6 linked regions of the Homo sapiens genome follow. The protein of the gene in region 1 purifies or fractionates together with the protein of each later gene. This does not show direct contact. Each region holds a gene or a part of one and is shown in the gene's direction. Other genes may lie near its edges. The genes, in order: VPS39, RPS6KC1, RBM25, NME8, NPAT and XPO6.

Region 1 (3,500 bases):
ATCAACAAATTAGCCTCTTGCCATATATACTACAAATATATTCCCTAGCCTGTTGTCTTTTTTTTTAGTAATGTTTCTTTTTTTGACTTAAATTTTTTATTGTTGAGTCTCTTGATCTCTTCTACTTCAATATCAGCATTTTTCCTTAGAAATTTTTTATTCTCTACTTTCAGAGGCTTGATAAATATTCAATTCTAATTATGTGTGTGTATTTGAATATAGTCAGGCATTTTTGTGATGTTTTAGTGAATTTTAACATATGTATAAAAAGTGCTCAAATCATAAGTCTACAGCTCGTTGAATGTTTATGAACTGAGAGTCTTTTTTTTTTTTTTAAATCAGTCTGGAACTTATTTTGCTATAGTAATAGTCCTGTTTTATTTTATCCCTAAATTGTTGGGCTCCTTTCCAGAGGAATCATGTTTACCTTCCATATAGATCCCACCCATGTGATGGGCCTGTACCCTGACCTGCTGCCCACAGACTACAGAAAGCAGTTGCAGTATCCCAACCCATTGCCTGTGCTCTCCGGGGCTGAATTGGAGAAGGCTCACTTAGCTCTGATTGACTACCTGACACAGGTAGGTATAGTACAGAGTGCGTGAAAGAGTTTGCCTGGGAGTTTCAGTACTTGTTTCTTTGTGGCAAGGAATTGAGGGCCTTCTCTAATGCCAAGGCAGTCTGTAAATTAATGCTGTAGGAAGTCTGCCTGGGGTAAAGTTTCTTTCTGCTACTTCTAACTTTACAGTACCATTGAGGTGGGGTTTTCTGCCAAATCTTGATAAAAATAAACACACCCAATTCCTAGTAAATTCACACAAAGCTGTTATAGAAACTAAAAAAAGTAAATTTTAGTTGATAGAAGCATACAAGTTTTTTTAAAACAAACTTTTTGTAATATACATGGTTTTGGGGAAAATGCCTCCTGTATGTGGAACCACTTGGAAAACACACACAAAAAAGTACAAAGCAGAAATACAAATTACCTATAACTCTACCACCAGAATGTAAGAAACTAACATTTTAGTGTTGTCCTTCTAGACTTGTATATCTATGAATTAGCTTTTGTTTATTTACTTCTTGGTTTATTTATTGCAAATGGATATCAAATTGTAGATTGTTTTATAGCTTAACTTTTTAAAAATTTAGCCATATACTGAGAAAGTACTTCCTTATCAATAAATGTCCTTATATAACATGTTTTTTAGGGAGGTATTTAGATTTAAAATTTTTTATGATTTACTGTTATAGACAGATACATTTTTTAAGTCAGCACTAAAGCCAGCATCTCCATTAAAGTCTCTTAACCCTAGATTTCTGTCACAGAAGGCTATTGTTTATTTCCTGTGTACCCATTCAGAATCAGAGACCTTATTGATATTTTTTCCTCTTAAGTGTTTTGCAGATCTTTGTAAGAGGTCTCCAGAATGCTCTAGGGTAGGCACTGAGAAGTATTGCTGTTGGCCGGGTGTGGTGGGTCATGCCCGTAATCCCAGCACTTTGGGAGGCTGAGACAGAAGATCACCTGAGGTCAGGAGTTCGAAACCAGCCTGGCCAACATGGCAAAACCCAGTCTCTACTAAAAATACAAAAATTAGCTGGGTGTGGTGGCCCACGCCTGTAATCCCAGCTATTCAGGAGGCTGAGGCAGGAGAATTGCTTGAACTCAGGAGGCAGAGGTGGAAGTGAGCCGAGATTGCGCCACTACACTTCAGCCTGGGCAACAGAGTGAGACTCTGTCTCAAAAAAAAAAAAAAAAAAGAAGAAGTATTGCTGGAAAAATTGTCATGCCACTTTCCACTCCCTGCCTCTGGGTCAGTGAGTCCCTGCAGGTCTGATCAGGCATGGGTGGCCTTGGCCCTTCCTTGACATTGGGCTCCAGGGGTACCCTCCTGGGGCTGGCAGCCTGCAAGGAGCACACAAACTTGCCACTGCCTACACACTGCACACACTGTGCTAAGTAAAAAAGATTCCTGGGCATACTATCTCCCAAAGCCAGTGGCATTGTGGAAGGCCCTCCACTGCCAATGTCTTAGCTGTAGGAAGGTGAGCACACGTCCTTCCCTGGCCTTCTTCACTGACAATGGGAATGTGTGAAGTAACTGACACTAGTATTGTGCCAGAGAGATGGCAGAGCAAGACCATGGGCTCTGCCAGACTCAAGAGAATACATACTGGATGAAGTTCTAGGATAGGCAGAAACTCATCTCCAGGGATCAAAAGCAGATCAGTAGGTGGGATTGTTTGGGAATAGCACGAGGAACTTTCTGGAGTGATAGAAATGTTATCTTCCTTCACTGAGGTGGTTACATGCATGTACACATCTGTCAAAATGTATCTGATGGTACACTTTAAAAGATTAGATTTTATTGTAAGTTATACCTCAATAAGGTTGATTTTTAAAAAAATAAAAGAACATGGGCTTTGGAGTCAGCCCCCAGTGTGAATCCTGCCCTACCCCTTATGTAGCAGCTGACACCTGTGCCTTGGGTTCCTCACCTGTAAAATAAGGATAATATTATCGGCACTTGTTTTAGGTTTAAGATGGTATATATAAAGTGCTTGGCATGGTGCCTGGTCTGTAGTAAATATTCAATAAATAATTGTTGTTGTCTCTGTGGCAATTTGGCAGTGCTAAAAATCGAATGCTAATGTGAGATCAGGCCAATAGGCATGAGCTGATTGGAGGTATTCAGAATTACCCAGTAGCTCAGATGACAAAGGAAGACTTAGTCCTGGCCTTAACCCCACATTTTGACCTTTGCAGAAACGAAGTCAATTGGTAAAGAAGCTGAATGACTCTGATCACCAGTCAAGCACCTCACCGCTCATGGAAGGCACTCCCACCATCAAATCCAAGAAGAAGCTGCTACAAATCATCGACACCACCCTGCTCAAGTGCTATCTCCATGTGAGTTACCTGAGCGCTCGGGTGCCACAATTCCCAGTTACCCTGACAGTCTGGGAAAGTAAAAGGGAGTGCTAGACCCTGAGGGACCTGCCATTAGTAAGAGTGAAGTCTTTGATTCTGGAAACCATATAGACTTCTCCTGATGTCTGTGAGTCTCTTGGAATTAAGAGGATAGGGCAAGATATCAATGCACAATTGTACAGTGGATTCATCTTCTCTGGTCGGATTGCAGTTAGTGCTACAAAGTCAGCTGGGACAGTATTTCCTTCAAGAAATGTTCTCCCCCACAGAACATTAAAACACATTGTGCGAAGGTCCATAAATGCTCTAAAAGCCTCTACCTGCTGTCCTGAAAGAGGGCTGTCTGCTTTCTCTTGCTTGTGCTACATTCCTGGCCTTTCAGCCTAGAGCAGGCCTGGGCCAGGGAAGGGTGGGGCTCCCCAGGAAGCAGTTTCCACTGAACTCCTGCTCTTTCTGCAGACAAATGTGGCCCTGGTGGCCCCCTTGCTACGCCTGGAGAACAATCACTGCCACATCGAGGAGAGCGAGCACGTGCTAAAGAAGGCTCACAAGTACAGTGAGCTTATCA
Region 2 (4,295 bases), on another chromosome or scaffold:
TTATCACAGTATATTTTGTGTCTTTATTTTTCCTACTAGATGGTACTTGAGAACAGGGACTATCTACCTTTTTTTTTTTTTTTTTTTTTTTGAGAGAAGTCTTGCTCTTGTCCCCCAGGCTGAAGTGCAATGGTGCGATCTTGGCTCACCGAAACCTCCACCTCCCGGGTTCAAACGACTCTTTTGCCTCAGCCTCCCAAGTAGCTGGGATTGCAGGCGCCTGCCACCACGCCTGGCTAATTTTTTGTATTTTTAGTAGAGACGGGGTTTCACCATGTTGGCCAGGCTGGTCTCGAACTCCTGACCTGAGGTAATCCGCCCGCCTCGGCCTCCCAAAGTGTTGGGATTACAGGCGTGAGCCACCGCGCCCGGTCGGAGAACAGGGACTATCTTTGTAACTCCAATGCCAAATTGGCATCATGTCTGGCACATAGTAGGTGGTGAATTCAGGTTTAATGAATGACTAATAGACTTAGATATATGTAGGTTGAAAAGAAGGAGCCAGTGGTGAGAAAGAGATTAAACATACAGAAAGGAGATTTGGAATGTCATTGAAACAGTGTCTTAAGGTTTGCCAAAGAGGATGGGATTCAGATCACATGTGGAGTCATTAGCTGTAAAAATGAGCAAGTGATATGTGTACGTTTCAGACTGGCATGGAAATGTGAGAAGACAAAGGAATTGGTACTAAGGGCCATAGCTGCTTCTTCCTCTTCTTTTTTCCCTGTAAAGAAGAGTGGTGGTGCGGAGAGTAGGGAGGCAAAAGGAAGAGGAACAGAGTCTTTAGGATAATGGCAAAGACTTGGCATGAATATTTTGTGGAATGAAAAGGAACCTTGATCACAAAAAGATAAAGGAACTGCCAAGCGTTGATAACAACCTCAGCTGAAATTGGAAACTGTAGTGAGTGACTCGGAGAGGTCGAGTGACATATTTCTTTCTTCTAGCCAGAGGCGGACTCCAGATTTTCGAACCTGTGGGGATTTTTAAAAGATTGATATTGGCTTGGGAGCTTTTTTGGGTTGGGGGCTTGCTGTGCAGATGTGTTACAGAAAGGCGCTCAATGGAAGGAAATTCGTCTTAGAAAGAAGTAAGGGATATGTCTCAGAGAATGAGATGTTGCTGTGGGTATTTAAAATGATAGGCTGTGAATAGGTAAGGAAAGAAGGTGCTAGGCTATGGTATCTCTCCATCCCTTCAACACTCCACTTAAGTTTGTACCACGGCGGGGCGGAGGCAGGGAGGACCACGCTCTCCCGGTGTGGCGTGGCTATACCAACTCTCATAAAATCTCATAAAAGGTGACGGAGCTAGCGTACAAGAGGTCGTCTTTAGTGGAGAGGCCTGAGGTCTCCGCAGTGACGGGGGTGGCAGCGCGACCCCTTAGTCTTCAACTACAGGCCAGTCCCAGGTGCCCCAAAGGGGCTAGAATCTAAGGAGGAGTCTCCCCTCCCCCTAGAAGCGGGAGATAGCCTGGCCCGGAAGCTTCTCTGCTGACCCGGAAGCAGAGCTGTGCAGCTGAGGCGCCGCCGTGGAGCCGCCTTGGAGCCACCGCCCCCTCGCCGCTTCGCCGCTGCGTTGGGGAACCTGGACCGCGGCGGCGCCGGGTTTCCCTCATGATCCCGGGCGGGTGGCGGCGGCGGCAGAGGCGGCGGGAGGATGACCTCTTACCGGGAGCGGAGTGCCGACCTGGCCCGTTTCTACACTGTCACCGAGCCCCAGCGACACCCGAGGGGCTACACAGTATATAAGGTCACCGCCCGGGTGAGTGCCGGTGTCGGGCTGGGGTAGAGCTTGGATTGGGACCTGAGGATCTGGGGTGGGGACCCTGATGTGAGGGTACCTGACTCTGGCTCAGAGCCGAGGGTGGGACTGGGTGCTGCTCCTACTGGCGGGACTTGGGTGTCGGAGGTTGGGATTTTTAGAGTAGTGGCTGAGTGTGATATGCCCAGGGCTTCACTGTAGTAGGTCGTGGTAGAGTCCTCTTTCTGGGGGTGGGGCAGTCAGTGGTTGATGGTTTTAAATTGATGACTCAGTTCCCATCCCGTTTGGACTTTCTCTTCTGAGTTCGCAATTTGCAGAAGTGGTTTTGCTTGCTCCAGGAAGATAATGCAGATTAAAAAGTGTTAATTTATGTATTGTTTGGCTTATGTAATATAAGTTGTTTTTTCTCTTGACCTTTATCAGGTTTGCTGTGAGAAAGACAGATTCTTGGGACAGATGTCAGTGTTAGGCCACCAACCTAGGAACTGTGGATCCGGGCTTTGTCAAACCTTTGAGTTTTTCATGTTTTTCAGTAGGAGACGTGAAAAAAATCTGCTGAGGGTGGCTTGTGTGAGCTACCATGAGGGCACATTTTAAAGTTGGGAGGCTCCTTTACATCAACTAACTGGTCCAATTTTTAGTACCCACTTTATGTTTCATTGCTTTTGCCTTGAGTTTTAAAGAGAGTCTGCATCTTCTAGGAAAGTAAGAATAAATCAAAATTAAATAAGTATATATGTATGTGACGTATGTGTGCATGAATATATGTGTATAGTAGGCATTTTATGCACATCACCCAATTTAATTCTCATTTTAATGAGGAAGAAATAGATTAAAGCAAGTTTAGTAACTTGCCCAACTTTACATTGCAAGGCAGTAGCAGATCTGTCTGGGATCTGAAACCAGTTTTGCCTAACTCCAAGTTATATAAAATGTTAATAATTAACTTTATCAATTTTTAAAGAAGAGAGGTACAGATTAAGTAACAGTAGTTCAATATACATTTGGAGGATGTAAAGCAGGCCTTCAGAATAATTTTTTTTTTTTTGAGACGGAGTTTCGCTCTTGTTGCCCAGGCTGGAGTGCAATGGCATGATCTCTGCTCACCGCAACCTCTGCCTCCTGAGTTCAAGCGATTCTCCTACCTCAGCCTCCCGAGTAGCTGGGATTACAGGCATGTGCTACCATGCCCTGATAATTTTTTGTATTTTTAGTAGAGATGGGGTTTCTGCATGTTGCTCAGGCTCATTTCGAAGTCCTGACCTCAGTTGATCCGCCTGCCTCGGCCTCCCAAAGTGCTGGGATTACAGGCATGAGCCACCACACCCAGCCTGAGAAGAATCTTAAAGGTTAAATAGATCAGTTTGGGGCATGGGAGTGGCACGTGATGTATGGAAATGGTGCACAATTCAGATAAATGTGAGAAGGAGGGATAGATGAACATGTCTGTATAAAGATAATGAGAAGACCTGACCTGCTATTGCCGATTGCTGTTCGGAGAATAGAGGGATGTTTGTTGCTCCCTGCTTGCACTTAAGGTTGTTACATGGGTGGAATGTTAGTTTCAGGTTGTGTAAGAAATTTTGTGAGAGTGAGGGGCCCTTATTATACCACTCTTGAAACCTTTCTAGTCATTGGGCCCTTTGAAAATCTAGGCTTAGTTTCCTAACACATAGTGTATGGAATCAGAACAGTTTTCAACATACGTAATGTTTCTCTCACAGCATCCTACTTATCCGTTAATTTAACAGGAAAGTTATATTGTATTAATTTAGTTGCATGTCTGTGTCTCTTAGTGGATTTAGAGCAGTTCTCTATCATTGGCATTTGTTTCTGCTTATATCAAATAATAGATAAAAGAACATGCATGTGCATGGCACACAGTGCCTGAAAAACATTGTTGAATGTTTTCCTCTTCATTGTACGGAGCACACCCAATAAATGTTTAGATCCAGGCACTAAATACTGAGGGACATAAGGCTGAATAAAGCAGGGATCTTTATTCCTTTCAAGGATACTCATAGTAGAAGAGAGTTTAGTATACTTAAGTGTGATATAACACAGGAAGTTCCAGCAGACACTACAGAAAAGGGCTGTGGGAAGACAGATTGCTTCTGGATCAAGAGATTGGGGAATATGTACCAATCAAGATAGTTGAAAGAGGGGAAGAATCCAGAAAAGGAGAGGGTATGAAAAGGTAGACAGTTGAAGGGGTAGAGTCCATAAAGACCTGGAGGTATGAATGTGTGTGGAACTGGAATTGGAAGCACTGAGTATAATTATTTGTATTGTTACTTTACAAAAGGAAAGGTTAACCAAATTCAGAATTTTTTTTTTTTTTTTCCAAGGCGTAGTCTCGCTCTCTTGCCCAGGCTGGAGTGCAGTGGCGCTATCTCAGCTTACAGTAACCTCGCCTCCTGGGTTCAAGTGATTCTCCTGTCTCAGCCACTCAAGTAGCTGGGATTACAGGCGCCCTCCACCATACCCGGCTAATTTGTCTATTTTTTGTAGAGACGAGGTTTCGCCTTGTT
Region 3 (3,500 bases), on another chromosome or scaffold:
TCAGACTTAAATTAGATTCAGGGGGCAGCAGGATAACATACACTGTAGTGTATTTCTGGGGGCAGTTATTTAACTTGATCTTAGGAATACCTTTTCTTTAGAGCTGAGATTAAAATTTACATTTTATATTTGTATAGATTTAAGTTGAGTGGGGGAGATTTTAAACAGTAGGTCAGTGGTTACCAGACTTACCAAATTTTAGATGCATGGAAGAACTGTAAATTCCCATAAAGCTAATCTATTCATTGACCCCCACCATTATGATAGAGATCATATGGTGACTAATGCAAGATGAAACTCTCAGCTTGGAAAGTAACAAGGAATAGGATGTAAGTATGAGCTTCTGTTTTTTATTATATTTATGGATGCCCCCTCAGAAAAATATGCAAAGGGGTAACTGGCTTGGAAATGGGTATTTATGCATAGTAAATCCCACTCACGAGTTTTGCCTATTTGAAGCTTCTCTCAATGACAGTGCATCTGTGAATGTTCGCTGGTGTTGAAAATGATGCTTTTGAACGGTGCAATGCAAACACTGCATGAAATGTATTTTGATGGTCGAGATAATAAGGTGTTGCTGGTTCTTACTGATAGACTGAGAGATCTTTAACTCAGTGAAATGTTAAATGTTCATTTTCTCTTTTATTCTTACTTTTTCCCATTGCTTTCAAAATCTGCAGTTCACAAATAATGCCAATGAATCAGTGCTGCTGAACACTTACTATCCAGATGCCCAGCCCTTGCTCACAAACACAATGCTTTTTCAAGAATTAAATGTGTCTAAGAGCACAAACATAATTCTCCCAAAATTAATTTTGAGAGTTGAAAAGGTGGTCTATGGGAAATCATTTTAGATGAATAATTTTGGTTAGGTATAATACTGAAATTCAGGACCGAGTAAGCTTAAAAATGGTATATGGTTGTGTGTGTGGTTTACCCCCTTTTTGTTTTTATTTATTTGTTAAACCCTGTCATGTTATTGGTAAATTATGAGGAAATCATGTTTTAAGAAAAATTCAAAAATATATTTGCTTTAAAGTTTGGGAATCTGTTAGGCATTTTACTGCCTTAGTATTATTTCACTGGAGGGAATGTTTTGAATTTTCAGAATGTCTTTTCAAAATAAAAAGAAATCAAAATGAAAAACCAAAACAGTTGTTTTTTATTGGGTGGTTTGGCTAAAAGGGTTGTTTGAAACTCCAGTAACAAAAAATGAGCTCAGTGAACCTTTGCATGTTTTGGTATGAGTTTATTAAATAACCACAGACTGTCAGGGTATCAGCGTGGCAGGGGGCGTCCATTTACAGCACGGATGAGTCTGAAGAGAGAATAAGGTAAGATTTATGATTTTTTAATCTGTCCTTTCCTCTTCATGACTTTCTTACATAATTTTAGACTCACCTCATTTCCCTTCTCCAGTCTTTCTTTAAAAATATACATGTATGTTTACATGTATACCTGTATTTGTATACATGTGTGTATATATATATATATATATATCTCATATATAAACTTCAGGAAACATTTAGTATGGACTAGATTCACTCACTTTTTCATTTACTTAGAACCAAACTTTTGAAATGAGTTCTGAAACAAATGGTTATTTATATAACTGAATATAAGGAGCACAGTGAAATAAGCAAGAATTAAAAATTGAGGAATTCTACAGGAAAAATTAGTATTGGAACAGCTAAAATATTCTGTAAGTATCTATTTCAGAAATAAACAAATTTCTTTATAAGTGTATGCCATTGAGGTAAGTTTTATATAGTCTAGCCTCATTTTACAATATAAATTTTTATATTCATTGGAACTGTTTCAGAAATGAGATTTTTCCCCCTTTAATAGCTGTTAGTTTCTGTCCTCTTTCTATCATATCTTATTTCATCCCTTTGTAATTTCAATGTATTCAGTTTTGACTTTGCCCGTATTCTACTTCGATATAGACTGGCACAGCAACTGAATATATTGCTCATACATTAGCTTTCCTTTCATAACCTGCTATAAGTTCTCTGATCCATGAGGAAGAGAAAAAGAGTATCTGACAGGTAAGATTGCTTTTTAAAGTTGTTTTAAATGCATTACATGACTGAGAAAAGAAAAATGCACATTTTATTGTTGCAGTTTAAAATTTCATTTTGGTGAAACTAAACGTGAAACAAAAGGGATAAATGTGTTTTGTTTTGTTTTGTTTTACCTGTTTGGGGTATTTTTTTCTGAGTTTGTGTAGAAACCGTGTGGTACACTGGTAATCTTGTCAGGGTACAAACTTGGTCTGACTTTGTTATTTGGTTTATTTGTGAACCATGTACTTGCTCTTCCTCCCAGAAACATAGCTTGTAGGCAAGGTTAATCCAGTGTTGGCGATCCATGTCCTAGCACAGCATCTGTAAGTTAATGCACAATCGTTCCTTCCAAGGATGGATTTATCATTGTAAATATATTTTCATTGTCTTACAGGCATAATGGGCATAAGTATGTTGCTTTTAAATATTTTAAATTAAACTATTACAGTTACATATATTTTGCTTGAAGTGAGTGATTTTCAAACTTTTTGTATTTGGTGGGCTGTCCATCTTGTAATGGTGGGAGTAAATGTTTCCATAGATGATAAGGCAGTTCTTGGCTGAATTCAGCTTGTGTTTCTTTTGGAGGGTGGGCAAATCAGAGGGCAGAGATTATTTAGTTGCATTATAGGTATTCTTCTATACCACTTGCCCTTTGAAACCCTCAACTTGAGGTAATGTGCAGTCTGGGGTTTTAATTAGTATTAATAATCTTGTGGATTTACAGAAATCTATAATGCACAGAGTTGAGTTTTAACCAATGATCGTATTCATAGAAAATATTTCGAACCACCACATTCTTCATGGTCATTTTAGTTAGTACATAGTCATTGAGTGGCCAGCCACACCTGACACAATCTCCCAGCATCCAAGATTGGAGATTCCTGGTCTGTGTAGAGTATATGGTTTTGCACGAAATCTTTCTAGTCTTGTGATTGCTTCAGTTTAATTTGTCACATAAAACCACAAGTATTTAATATTAATGTATCAGTGGTTTGGTGTTTTTGTTCCCAGTACTGGGCTTTGCGCCGGGAAAAATCTGAATACTGGAGCTACAGAGTTAACTCTAAAAGTGCTTTTATTGGTTTCTAGAAACTGGAAGAAGAGAAAGGCAAAAAGGAAAAAGAAAGACAGGAAATTGAGAAAGAACGGAGAGAAAGAGAGAGGGAGCGTGAAAGGGAACGAGAAAGGCGAGAACGGGAACGAGAAAGGGAAAGAGAACGTGAACGAGAAAAGGAGAAAGAACGGGAGCGGGAACGAGAACGGGATAGGGACCGTGACCGGACAAAAGAGAGAGACCGAGATCGGGATCGAGAGAGAGATCGTGACCGGGATAGAGAAAGGAGCTCAGATCGTAATAAGGATCGCAGTCGATCAAGGTAAGGCTTTACAGAAGTTACTGTTTCCTGATAGCTTTAAGAAAACTATCGGGTA
Region 4 (3,500 bases), on another chromosome or scaffold:
TACCATGCTTAACACAAAGGTCAGTGTCTCTGTGAAGTCATCCCTGACCTCTCCAGAGAAAGTTAATTGTTTTCTCACCTGTGGTTCTGGGGACCTTATATATTACTCTATAATAATGATCACTTTCTCATGATATCTTTATAGGCCTTGCTCTCTGTTGAGACAGTCTCTGAGGAAAGGTTTATGTTTTCTTCCCTTTCATTTCTGCAGTGCCTGTCTTAGGGCAGATCCTGGCCACCTCCCTTCCAGCAGGAGAGGTCCAGCCTTCTCCAGGCTGTCTGTTGGTTATAATCATATTGCCTTTAGCTCCCAGACCACTCTATGTGCTTTTGATCTGGAGCAAAGAAGAGGCCGTTTTACCAGAAAGCTCCCAGTTTCTCAGTTGGTTCACCTTTGTCTCTAGAATGTAGCCCTCAAAACTTAGGCTGTTGGTGAGATTTTGACAACATTTGCTTTGTTTAATTCCCTCGATGGTACTCTGATTCTTCAGGGAGAAGAGTTCAGATTGGCTTTATCCTTCAATCCATATCTAGCAAGAAATTCCTTGGCATTTGTAGTATGAAGGTGAAAATAGATCTTTATTCTTAGCATGAGAGCAGGTCCCTTCCCCTTCTACTCTTGTGGCCTACTAGGTGTTTCAGGTGGTTTCTGGAAAGGTGAGCCTCAGAGACTGAAAATCTACATTAACATACTGAAGTTCTGAATGTCAATTTGGTGCTTTGGAATTTTAATTTCGTTTGGCAGAGTTTTGCCATGTTAAACCACAATATGCAAATTAAACTATCATTTTCCTTAGTTATTTCAGTCTACTTGAGTATGGAGGAAAAGTGAAGCAATCTGCAATATTATCAAATATTTGTTTTTCTTAGAGCAGATCCTGAAGATAGTTAAGGAGGCTGGATTTGATCTGACACAGGTGAAGAAAATGTTCCTAACTCCTGAGCAAATAGAGAAAATTTATCCAAAAGTAACAGGAAAAGACTTTTATAAAGATTTATTGGAAATGTTATCTGTGTAAGTTTCTGATACATAATTGTTTGCATTATAAAAGTGGTAAATGTTCATTATAGAAACTTTGAAAAATGCAAAAATTAATTAAAACATTTCATCTAATCTCATTCATGAAAAGACATTCTGCTAACATTCATGGTTCATCTTTTTTCTATTTCCTTACCTCCCTCCCTATCTTCTTTTCTCTCTCTCATTCTGTCTCTCCTCGCTCCCTTTCTTTCATTCTTTCTTCCTTCCTACTTTCCTTTCTCCCTTTCCTTCCCTTCCCTTCCCTTTCCTTTCCTTTCTTTTCCTTTCCTTTCCTTCCTTCCTTCCTGTTTCTCTAGGTCTTCACATTAGATATAGAGGCTGCCTCAGTTCAAACCGCTGCTTCGCCAACATACTTAATTGTTGCCTGAGTTTCCTTATCTGTTGAATGGGAATAATAATAGTATCTATCTAATAGGCTTGTTGGCAGGGCTACATAATTGATGTGTTGAAAGTACCTAGAACAGTGCATGACAGATATTAAACACTTGATAAATGTTAGCTATGATTATTCACATCTTTTTTTACATGTGTTGATACCTTGTCAAACTATGTATACATAATAACATAAATATTACGATAAGAAATACACTCTTTTAAAACTTCTTTCTACATGATGCATCTGTTCCTGACAACACATACTTTTATAACCACCACATAGAAATTACAGGCTAACATTTATTGTTTCCTTAATTCCAGGCCTTGTGATGAGCTGTACACACTTTATTTCATTTGACTCTTATAATAATAACTCTGTGAAGTAGTTTTACTAGAATTTCCACTTTGATTTTGAGAGAACATAGGACCAGGGCTAGAAGTTGTCCGCAGTCACAAAACTAGTGTTTCGCTGGGTCCTGAACCCAGGGAGTCTCTGCTTTTAACTGCTGCTTTCCAAAACTCTCTTTTACACAGAGTTCATAATTATGTGAACATCATTATCGATTTACTATGAGTTACATGTCTTTTCTATTTTATATATATTACACATCAAAAATTTTCTATACAGTCATGCTTTGCAGTACAATATTTCAGTCAATAATGAATCACATGTACAGCAGTAGTCCCATAAGATTATCATGGAGCTGAAAAATTCCTATTGCCTTAGTGACATCGTGATCATTGTAATGCAATGCATTACCATTTGTGTTCATATATGTTTAGATACACAAATAACACTGTATTACAGTTGTCTACAGTATTCAGTATAGTAACATGCTATACAGGTTTATAGCCCAGGAGCCATAGGCTGAACCAGATAGCCTAGGTGTGTAAGAGGCTATTCTATCTAGGTTTCTGTAAGTATATTCTAGGATGTTTGCACTACAATGAAATAACCTAATGTCACATTTCTCAGAAAGTATCTGCATTATTAAGAGGTACATGACTGTACATACACACACACATGCACACACACACACGTGTGTATAAAATACGTATAAGAAACCTCTTTAATTGCATGTCTTCTCTTTTTTCAGTTCCTGACAATTTGTCAATGAGTTTAGGAAGGCAGAATTTATAAAGTTAACAAAATTTAATGGAATATATGTGCTATTGAGATATAAATAATAAGCAGAAGCCTAGGACTGTACCATGACAGCTTAGAAAACTAACTTTCATACTTATTGCAGGTTGCATTTTCTGGGAAGCTGGAAGTTTCTTGTTCAGGCTATTGAGTAATGATGCCATGAGGAAGACAGGGCAAAGAAGCAGGATGGGGATGACGGCAAGTCAAGATGTAGTGCAGACCAGACAACAGCCTCTGCTAACCACAGCTAGATTGGTCTATCAGAGTTGTCCAGTATTGGCTGAGATGACCAGGCTGTTGTATGCTCACATCACTCAGTTACTTGAAGTAGGCCATCCTGGCAATGAGGATGGCCTGAGCAAGGCTATCTTAACTTGAGGCAATCCCTGAAGCGGTTAGAGGCTGCTGGACAACCATAAAGCAACAAGTCTTGAATCCATGACAATGTCTCTATTTACAGACCTCAAAGTAGCAAAATAATAAGACTTCATTGACAAATATTCTCTAGAATTAAATTATAGCACCCACCTAGCATATAAACCTATTAGAAGAGGGAGAAATGAAAAAAAGAAAGTACATGATTGCACTGATAAGGACAAAGAATAAAAAGGAGCTCCCTGGCTCAGGCTGCAGTGTTCTGTCTTTAGCCTTGTTTGCAGTGTCAACAGTTTTCAGTAGGCTGGGTCTTCTGAAAGCACCGTTCTTTGCAGGGGTCCATCTATGGTCATGATTCTGACCAAGTGGAATGCTGTTGCAGAATGGAGACGATTGATGGGCCCAACAGACCCAGAAGAAGCAAAATTACTTTCCCCTGACTCCATCCGAGCCCAGTTTGGAATAAGTAAATTGAAAAACATTGTCCATGGAGCATCTAACGCCTATGAAGCAAAAGAGGTTGTTAATAGACTCTTTGAGGATCCTGAGGAAAACTAAAGTA
Region 5 (3,500 bases), on another chromosome or scaffold:
AAAGCACATGCCAGTTTAATGTCTCCCGGTAGACGCAAAAGGTAAATGCTTTTTAAAAGAGACAAGTTACCCGTATCCATTAAAAAAAAAAAAAAAGAATTACATCAGGATACTTACATTGTGAATAAACTAATAGGACCAGATTATGTTCTGATCTATATTAGAACTATTCCAAAATACATTGTCTTTCTTCACATTTTAACCTGCCTGAAATTGGGTTGCATCTCTCAATTAATGGCATATCACTGTTTCATGGGAAATATGTTTATTCTGTAATGGTATATAAAATAATGGTATATCTTACAAATGATGTTATCTGAGATTTTTTGCAATCCATGTTTTTTAACTGAATGTAAATAATACAGTTATGTTCTATGCTCCACACACATTTAAAGTCCTAAGATCAATTGATGGAATTTTTCCAGGCACAATCTTTGAGAAAAGTGTTTTTCCCAAAACACTTTTGAGAAAAGTGTGTCTTTGTTTGAAGGATATTTTTTGAAAGAGATAATAGTTTTAAAATGTTTATTCTAGTTTCTTAGCTCCCAAGCCCTGGGTATTTTTGTTAGAGTTTTTACTTTTGGTTGTCTTTCATTCAAGACTGACCTTAGTTAGCCTCCTTTATTGGAGCCTTTCTCACTTCACCATATAAAATAACAAACAGCAATATCCATTTTTTTATTTTTAGAGATAGGGCCTTGCTGTCTTGACCAGGTTAGAGTATAGTGGTACAATCATAACTCACTGCAGCCTCGAACTTGTGGGCTCAGAAGATCCTCCCACCTTAGCCTCCCCAGTAGCCAGCAGCACAGGCACATGCCGCCACACCCAGCTAATTTTTTTATTTTTTGTAGAGATGGGGGTCTCACTTTGTTGCCCAGGCTGGTCTGAAACTCCTGGCTTCAAGTGATCTTCCCACCTTGGCCTCCAAAATTGCTGGGATTACAGATGTGAGCCACCATGCCCAGCCATAAAAGAGCAACATTAATATTTAACATTTATAGGAACCCTGACTTTTTAAATAAAGTCTTTATATATACTTTATTTCATTCCATTCTTTAGTAAACCCAATAATGCAGTTGGTCATTATAAAGTAGGTTAGAGAGTCAGAGCTTGCTGTGCTTCAGACCATAGGTAGTAAGTGGTAAAGCTAGACTTCAAACTCATTTTTTTGAATTCAAGACTACTAATACTTTTTGTACTTCCCTTTGTTCCTAACACAAATAGAGAAAATATAGTTGACCTTGAATAACATGGGTTTCAACTGCATGGGTTCATTTATACTCAAGTTTTTTTCAACCGAACACAGATTAAAAATTTAGTAGTAAAACCTGCCTATATGCAGTGTGCTGACTTTTTGAATACATGGGCTTCCTAGTGCAGACTGTAGGACTTGAGTACATGTGGATTTTGATATCCTTGGGGGTCCTGAAACCAGCCCCCTGCAGATACAGGGACAACTGTATCTGTTCTGTTATGGTGATCTTAAAATTTATGTCTGTATATGTATTTATCTTTAAATCTGTTAAATATAGTGGTTAAAAGAAAAGCTTTTAAAATGTGTTTCAGTGAATCTCAGAGAAAAAGTACCACTTTGTCTGGCCCTCATTCAACAATACGGAATTTCCAAGATCCAAACGCTTTTGCAGTAGAAAAAGTAAGTGACTCTGCCAAACTTTGCAACTTAAAATATTCCTGAGTTTAAAAATACAGATATATACACAAATGTATGTATGTGTGTATGTATCAAATAAAGAAACAGGAGTAAGTTTATAGATATCTGTAAATACATTGTTGTTGTTGGATCATTTAATAAAATACTGGCCAGGTGCTATGGCAAACACCTGTAATCCCAGCACTTTGGGAAGCTGAGGTGGGCAGATTGCTTGAGCTCAGGAATTCAAGACCAACCTGGGCAACATGGTAAAACCCCCTCTCTACAAAAAATACAAATATTAGCTAGGTGTGGTAGCACGTGCCTGTAGTCCTAGCTGCTTGGGAGGCTGAGATGGGAGGACTGCTTGAGCCTGGGAGGTCAAGGCTGCAGTGAGCCATGATCATACCACTACACTCAAGCCTGGGTGACAGAGTCAGACCCTGTCTCAAAAAAAAAAACTGGCCGGCGAGTAGTGGCTTGTACCTGTAATCCCAGCACTTTGAGAGGCCAAAGCCAGCGGATCTCTTGAGGCCAGGAATTCAAGACCAGCCTGGACAACTGTCTCTACTAAAAATACAAAAATTAGCTGGGTGTGATGGCACACGCCCGTAATCCCAGCTACTATTCAGGAGGCTAAGGCACAAGAATTGCTTGAACTGCGAGGTGGAGGTTGCAGTGAACTGAGATTGTGCCACTGTACTCCAGGCTGGGCTATAGAGCGACACTGTAAAAATAGGGCATTTACTGGGGTTTGATGATGAGTGTGGAACTGTATAAGAAAGAGTTGGTGAAAGATCTGTGAAAACATTTGCAAATTATGAAGTGTTGTATTCAGGTATTAATATGGAGGGAGCCATCACAACTTCTGAGTTTCCATTTAGGTTTATTAAAACTATCCAGCTCTTATCGGTTTGTTCTTTTCTTATAAATATTAAATAGCAGAATACTCTTTATTGTCCTTTTGCTAACAGTGGCTTTCTTTTCCAGCAAATGGTTATTGAAAATGCACGAGAAAAAATACTAAGCAACAAATCTCTTCAAGAAAAGCTAGCAGAAAACATAAATAAATTTTTAACTAGGTAAGCTATATATGTTTAAAATGCCTAATTGTTTTTGCCTAATTGCATAACTATAATAAAGATTTTTCTTTCTTTATTAACAGTGATAACAATATTGCCCAAGTACCTAAGCAAACAGATAACAACCCTACGGAGCCAGAGACTTCAATTGATGAATTCCTAGGACTTCCGGTATGGGTGGTTGGGGTGTGCATGGGTGCGTGTGTGTTACTTATACTTAAGATTGATGGTAATTTTGGTTTCATTTCAAAACCATTGCCAACATAAGATGTTATGATTTGCCATCTAATTAGATAAAATGATTTACAATAGTAAGATAAAACTTTTCTTCATTCATTGAATGCAGTCTGTTCCTGAAAAACACATTGGATGATGACTTAAAATAGAATCTATATTGCATCCACAGTCATGGATTCCTAAGTATTCAATACTTAAACATTTATTAGTGGGTATATTTGTGTGTAATAAACAGTAATACAGTGTTTATATAAATTACATTTCTTCTACACTGCTACAAATTGTATAATAATTTAGAGAAACAATGAAATGATACAATAAAGATATGTAATGGGGCCAGGCATGGTGGCTCAATGCCTGTAATCCCAGCACTTTGGCAGGCCAAGGAGGGCAGATCACTTAAGGCCAGGAATTCGAGACCAGCTTGGCCAACATGGTGAAATCCCATCTCTACCAAAAATACAAAAATTATATGGGCATCATGACACATGCTTGTTATCCCAGCAGCTCGGGTGGCTGAAGCAGGA
Region 6 (3,500 bases), on another chromosome or scaffold:
TATATCCTTTCATCCTTCGGTGGATACCTGGGTTGCTTCCACCCTTTGGCTATTGTGAATAATACTGCTGTGAATATGGGTGTACAAATCTTACAAGTGAATTTTCAGTAGCCACCACCATATACCAGGGCCTAGGGCATGTACAGATGAACAAGACACACATTCCTCCCCTTGGGAAACTTACAGCATTGCTTTAGGACCCTTGGACAGAATTTTGTTATTGACTGAGCTAGCCCAGCACCCTTGTATTGAGGTTTCATTTTAATTGGCAGTCAGTAGAGCATCATGGGAATGACCACCTTTGAGTAATGAATTGTAAAGTAGTTGGCTTCATGAACTCCATGTGCATTTTTTCTGAGGTACGTTGCAAGTCAAAGTTTTTGTCACCTAGACCTCAGTTATTTAAGTACACAGGGGGTGGCCATAGTTGATGTGAATAGGATTGTCCTTTTTGTGTCACTGACACAGTGGTTCATCTGTAGGTATCCCAGGGTCAGGGGCTTGGGTAGGGTAGGCCCTGTCCCCCAAAGGTAAGGAAACTGTTGCCTGGCTGGTGTCTTACAGGCGGAGGGTCTTTTCCCTGGGATCCCAGCTCTTTATTCCAGGAAATTATTTCCTCTCCATTTCTTGCTGACTTAACATTTTTACTTTTAAGGGTATTAGTTGGCATAAGTTTGAGCCCTTTTAACATCTTCTTTTTAAATCTTCAACTCTAATAAGACTTGAAAGTGGCGTAATGTGATAAAAACTACCACTTATTAAGCATCTTTGATGTGCTAGCTATTCTTCACTCATTACTTGTTTTTTCTTTCTTTTTTTTGAGACGGAGTCTCGCTCTGTCACCCAGGCTGGAGTGTAGTGGCATGATCTTGGATCACTGCAACCTCTGCCTCCTGGATTCAAATGATTCTCCAGCCTCAGCCTCCTGAGTAGCTGGGATTACAGGCACGCCCAGCTAGTTTTTTTTTTTGTTTTGTATTTTTAGTAGAAATGGGGTTTCACCAGGTTGGCCAGGCTGGTCTCGAACTCCTGACCTCAGGTGATCCACTCGCCTTGGCCTCCCAAAGTTCTGGTATTATAGGCGTGAGCCACTGCGCCTGGCCAAGTTTTTCTCTTAGTCATTCAGTATCAGTAAACCCCACCAACTCTGCTAGGTTCCACTATGGCTGTTCCTGCCAGAGCGGGAGATGGACAGACCTGCTCTGTGATTCCTAGTTGACAAGTGGTGGAGTTGGCATTTAGACCCAAAGTGCTGTACTCCGGAGCCTGTGCTCTTTGGGTGCTGCCTCATGGGAAGGAAGATCAGGAGAGTCTTCCACCTGTATGTTGTTTGGCTTAGAGATAGATAGTGGTGGAGCATAGGGAGTATGGGGAATTTTGTTTACACTATCCCTGTTGACCTTCACATTTAGAACCAGTTTAAAAAGATTTATAGTTGCAGTATAGAATTACAGGAAGAGCTAGCATACTATAACTGTATTTGATTAAATCATTTTTTGTTGCATTCCCATGGATTCTTAAGTGGTGTGACATGTTAGAGGTTCCCACTACTTTGCTGAGAAATTATTACTTAGTATTGAGCGAGCTGTTGCTTAATATGAAAATTGTGTGCAAAATTGAGTTTTTGCTTATATTAGCATTTCTTTTTTAGTTGCTTAGAAATTGAATTGCCTGCTAAGGTTTGTTTTCTTTCTTTCTTTCTTTCCTTTTTTTTTTTTGAGATGGCATCTTGCTTTTGCACCCAGGCTGGAGTGCAGTGGTACGATCTTGGCTTACTGCAACCTCTGCCTCCCAGGTTCAAGCAATTCTCCTGCCTCAGCCTCCTGAGTAGCTGAGATTACAGGCACCCACCACCATACCCGGCTAATTTTTGTGTTTTTTAGTAGAGATGGGGTTTCACCACGTTGGTCAGGCTGGTCTCGAACTCCAGACCTCAGATGATCTGCCCACCTTGGCCTCCCAAAGTGCTAGGATTACAGGTGGGAGCCACCACACCTAGCCTTATTTTTTTAATATCAGTTACCGTGAGTGGCCCCTGTAATGGAGGCAGAATCAGAACTGAAATTTAGCCACTCACATGGCATGTCATCCACTTGTTCATCCACAGCATTGCATTGTACCCCATGCTCTCAGAGGTACAAAGAAGACATGGGGGTGCAGGGAGATGGCAGGGAAAGGTTCAGCAGTACCCAGAGGTTTTGTATGTCAGTCACAGCATTAGAGAAAGTCTGGAGAAAAAGTTACCTGTCAAGAAATGACTTGAATAGCTTCTGAAAAAATTAGTATATGATATGGTTCAAATCACCTGATAAAACCAAAATGTGGTCAGCAAAATTAATGTAGTATAAAGAAATAGGTAGATTAAGCCAGAGTTTTTGTTATTGGTTTTTATATTTATTATATATTTATTTATTTTTTGAGACAGGGTCTTGCTCTGTTGTCCAGGCTGGGGCGCAGCAGCACAGTCACAGCTCATAGTGACCTCGATCTCCTGGTCTCAAGGCAATCCTCCCACCTCAGCCTCCTCAGTAGCTGAGACTACAGGCCCATGCCACCATGCCCAGCTAATTTTTTTATTTTTATTTTTTGTAGAGAGTGGGGATTGCTATGTTGTCCAGCCTGGTCTTGAACTTCTGATCTCAAGCAGTCCTCTTGCCTCAGCCTCCCAAAGTGCTAGGATCACAGGCGCGAGCCACCACACCAGGCCAAATAATCATGAAATAATGTATTGACTTCCTGCTATGAAGTTTACAACCCTAGGTACTGTGGTTACAATCTAACAATATAATAGTTAATATGTGTGTGTGTGTGTGTGTGTGTGTGTGTATTGCTTTCTATATGCCAGGCATCTTACATCTATGAACCTATGAACCCATTTACTGTCCCAAACAACTCTAGGAGGTAGAGGCAGTTTTTTTTTTTTTTTTTTTGAGACAGTCTTGCTCTGTCGCCTAGGCTGGAGTGCAGTGGCGTGATCTCAGCTCACTGCAGTCTCTACCTCCTGGGTTCAAGCGATTCTCCTGCCTCAGCCTCCCGAGTAGCTGGGACTACAGGTGCGCACCACCATGCCTGAATAATTTTTGTATTTTTAGTAGAGATGGGGTTTCACTATGTTGGCCAGGCTGGTCTTGAACTCCTGACCTCACATGATCCACCCGTCTGGGCCTCCCGAAGTGCTGGGATTACAGGCGTGAACCACCATGCCTGGCTTAAAGGCAGCTTTCATTTCATGTTTTATAGCTGACATTCAGTGCACTGAGAGGTTAGGCAACTTCCCAAGGTCACACAGCGAGTCACTGCTCATAACCGTTACACTTCCAGGGTAATATTTAATACTGCCCCTGCCCTCTGGGAGTCAGTTTAGTGGGGAAGATAAGTCAACATACTCTGAAAATACAAGAGACTGTGATACAGGTGATAGTAGAAGAATGTGTTGGTGCAAAGGGGCATTGGTACAAAGATTGCATAGGTACTGACCTGAGAGAGATTGGCTGAGAAGA

The links.
Region 2: the proteins of VPS39 (region 1) and RPS6KC1 purify together in Homo sapiens (affinity purification with mass spectrometry; one large-scale study listed by BioGRID and IntAct). This does not show direct contact.
Region 3: the proteins of VPS39 (region 1) and RBM25 purify together in Homo sapiens (affinity purification with mass spectrometry; one large-scale study listed by BioGRID and IntAct). This does not show direct contact.
Region 4: the proteins of VPS39 (region 1) and NME8 purify together in Homo sapiens (affinity purification with mass spectrometry; one large-scale study listed by BioGRID and IntAct). This does not show direct contact.
Region 5: the proteins of VPS39 (region 1) and NPAT purify together in Homo sapiens (affinity purification with mass spectrometry; one large-scale study listed by BioGRID and IntAct). This does not show direct contact.
Region 6: the proteins of VPS39 (region 1) and XPO6 fractionate together in Homo sapiens (co-fractionation; one large-scale study listed by BioGRID). This does not show direct contact.

Annotation. Positions count from the first base shown.
Region 1 is NC_000015.10:42,166,805-42,170,304, reverse strand, and holds part of VPS39 (vam6/Vps39-like protein), read left to right. Parts: intron 1-438; coding exon 439-581; intron 582-2,767; coding exon 2,768-2,911; intron 2,912-3,391; coding exon 3,392-3,500. UniProt on the Homo sapiens protein: Regulator of TGF-beta/activin signaling, inhibiting SMAD3- and activating SMAD2-dependent transcription.
Region 2 is NC_000001.11:213,049,746-213,054,040, forward strand, and holds the start of RPS6KC1 (ribosomal protein S6 kinase delta-1), read left to right. Parts: upstream 1-1,495; 5' UTR 1,496-1,659; coding exon 1,660-1,764; intron 1,765-4,295. UniProt on the Homo sapiens protein: May be involved in transmitting sphingosine-1 phosphate (SPP)-mediated signaling into the cell. Plays a role in the recruitment of PRDX3 to early endosomes.
Region 3 is NC_000014.9:73,100,034-73,103,533, forward strand, and holds part of RBM25 (RNA-binding protein 25), read left to right. Parts: intron 1-3,158; coding exon 3,159-3,445; intron 3,446-3,500. UniProt on the Homo sapiens protein: RNA-binding protein that acts as a regulator of alternative pre-mRNA splicing. Involved in apoptotic cell death through the regulation of the apoptotic factor BCL2L1 isoform expression.
Region 4 is NC_000007.14:37,893,597-37,897,096, forward strand, and holds part of NME8 (thioredoxin domain-containing protein 3), read left to right. Parts: intron 1-869; coding exon 870-1,014; intron 1,015-3,273; coding exon 3,274-3,496; 3' UTR 3,497-3,500. UniProt on the Homo sapiens protein: Probably required during the final stages of sperm tail maturation in the testis and/or epididymis, where extensive disulfide bonding of fibrous sheath (FS) proteins occurs.
Region 5 is NC_000011.10:108,184,639-108,188,138, reverse strand, and holds part of NPAT (protein NPAT), read left to right. Parts: coding exon 1-41; intron 42-1,569; coding exon 1,570-1,657; intron 1,658-2,644; coding exon 2,645-2,736; intron 2,737-2,819; coding exon 2,820-2,907; intron 2,908-3,500. UniProt on the Homo sapiens protein: Required for progression through the G1 and S phases of the cell cycle and for S phase entry. Activates transcription of the histone H2A, histone H2B, histone H3 and histone H4 genes in conjunction with MIZF.
Region 6 is NC_000016.10:28,205,466-28,208,965, reverse strand, and holds part of XPO6 (exportin-6), read left to right. Parts: intron 1-3,500. UniProt on the Homo sapiens protein: Mediates the nuclear export of actin and profilin-actin complexes in somatic cells.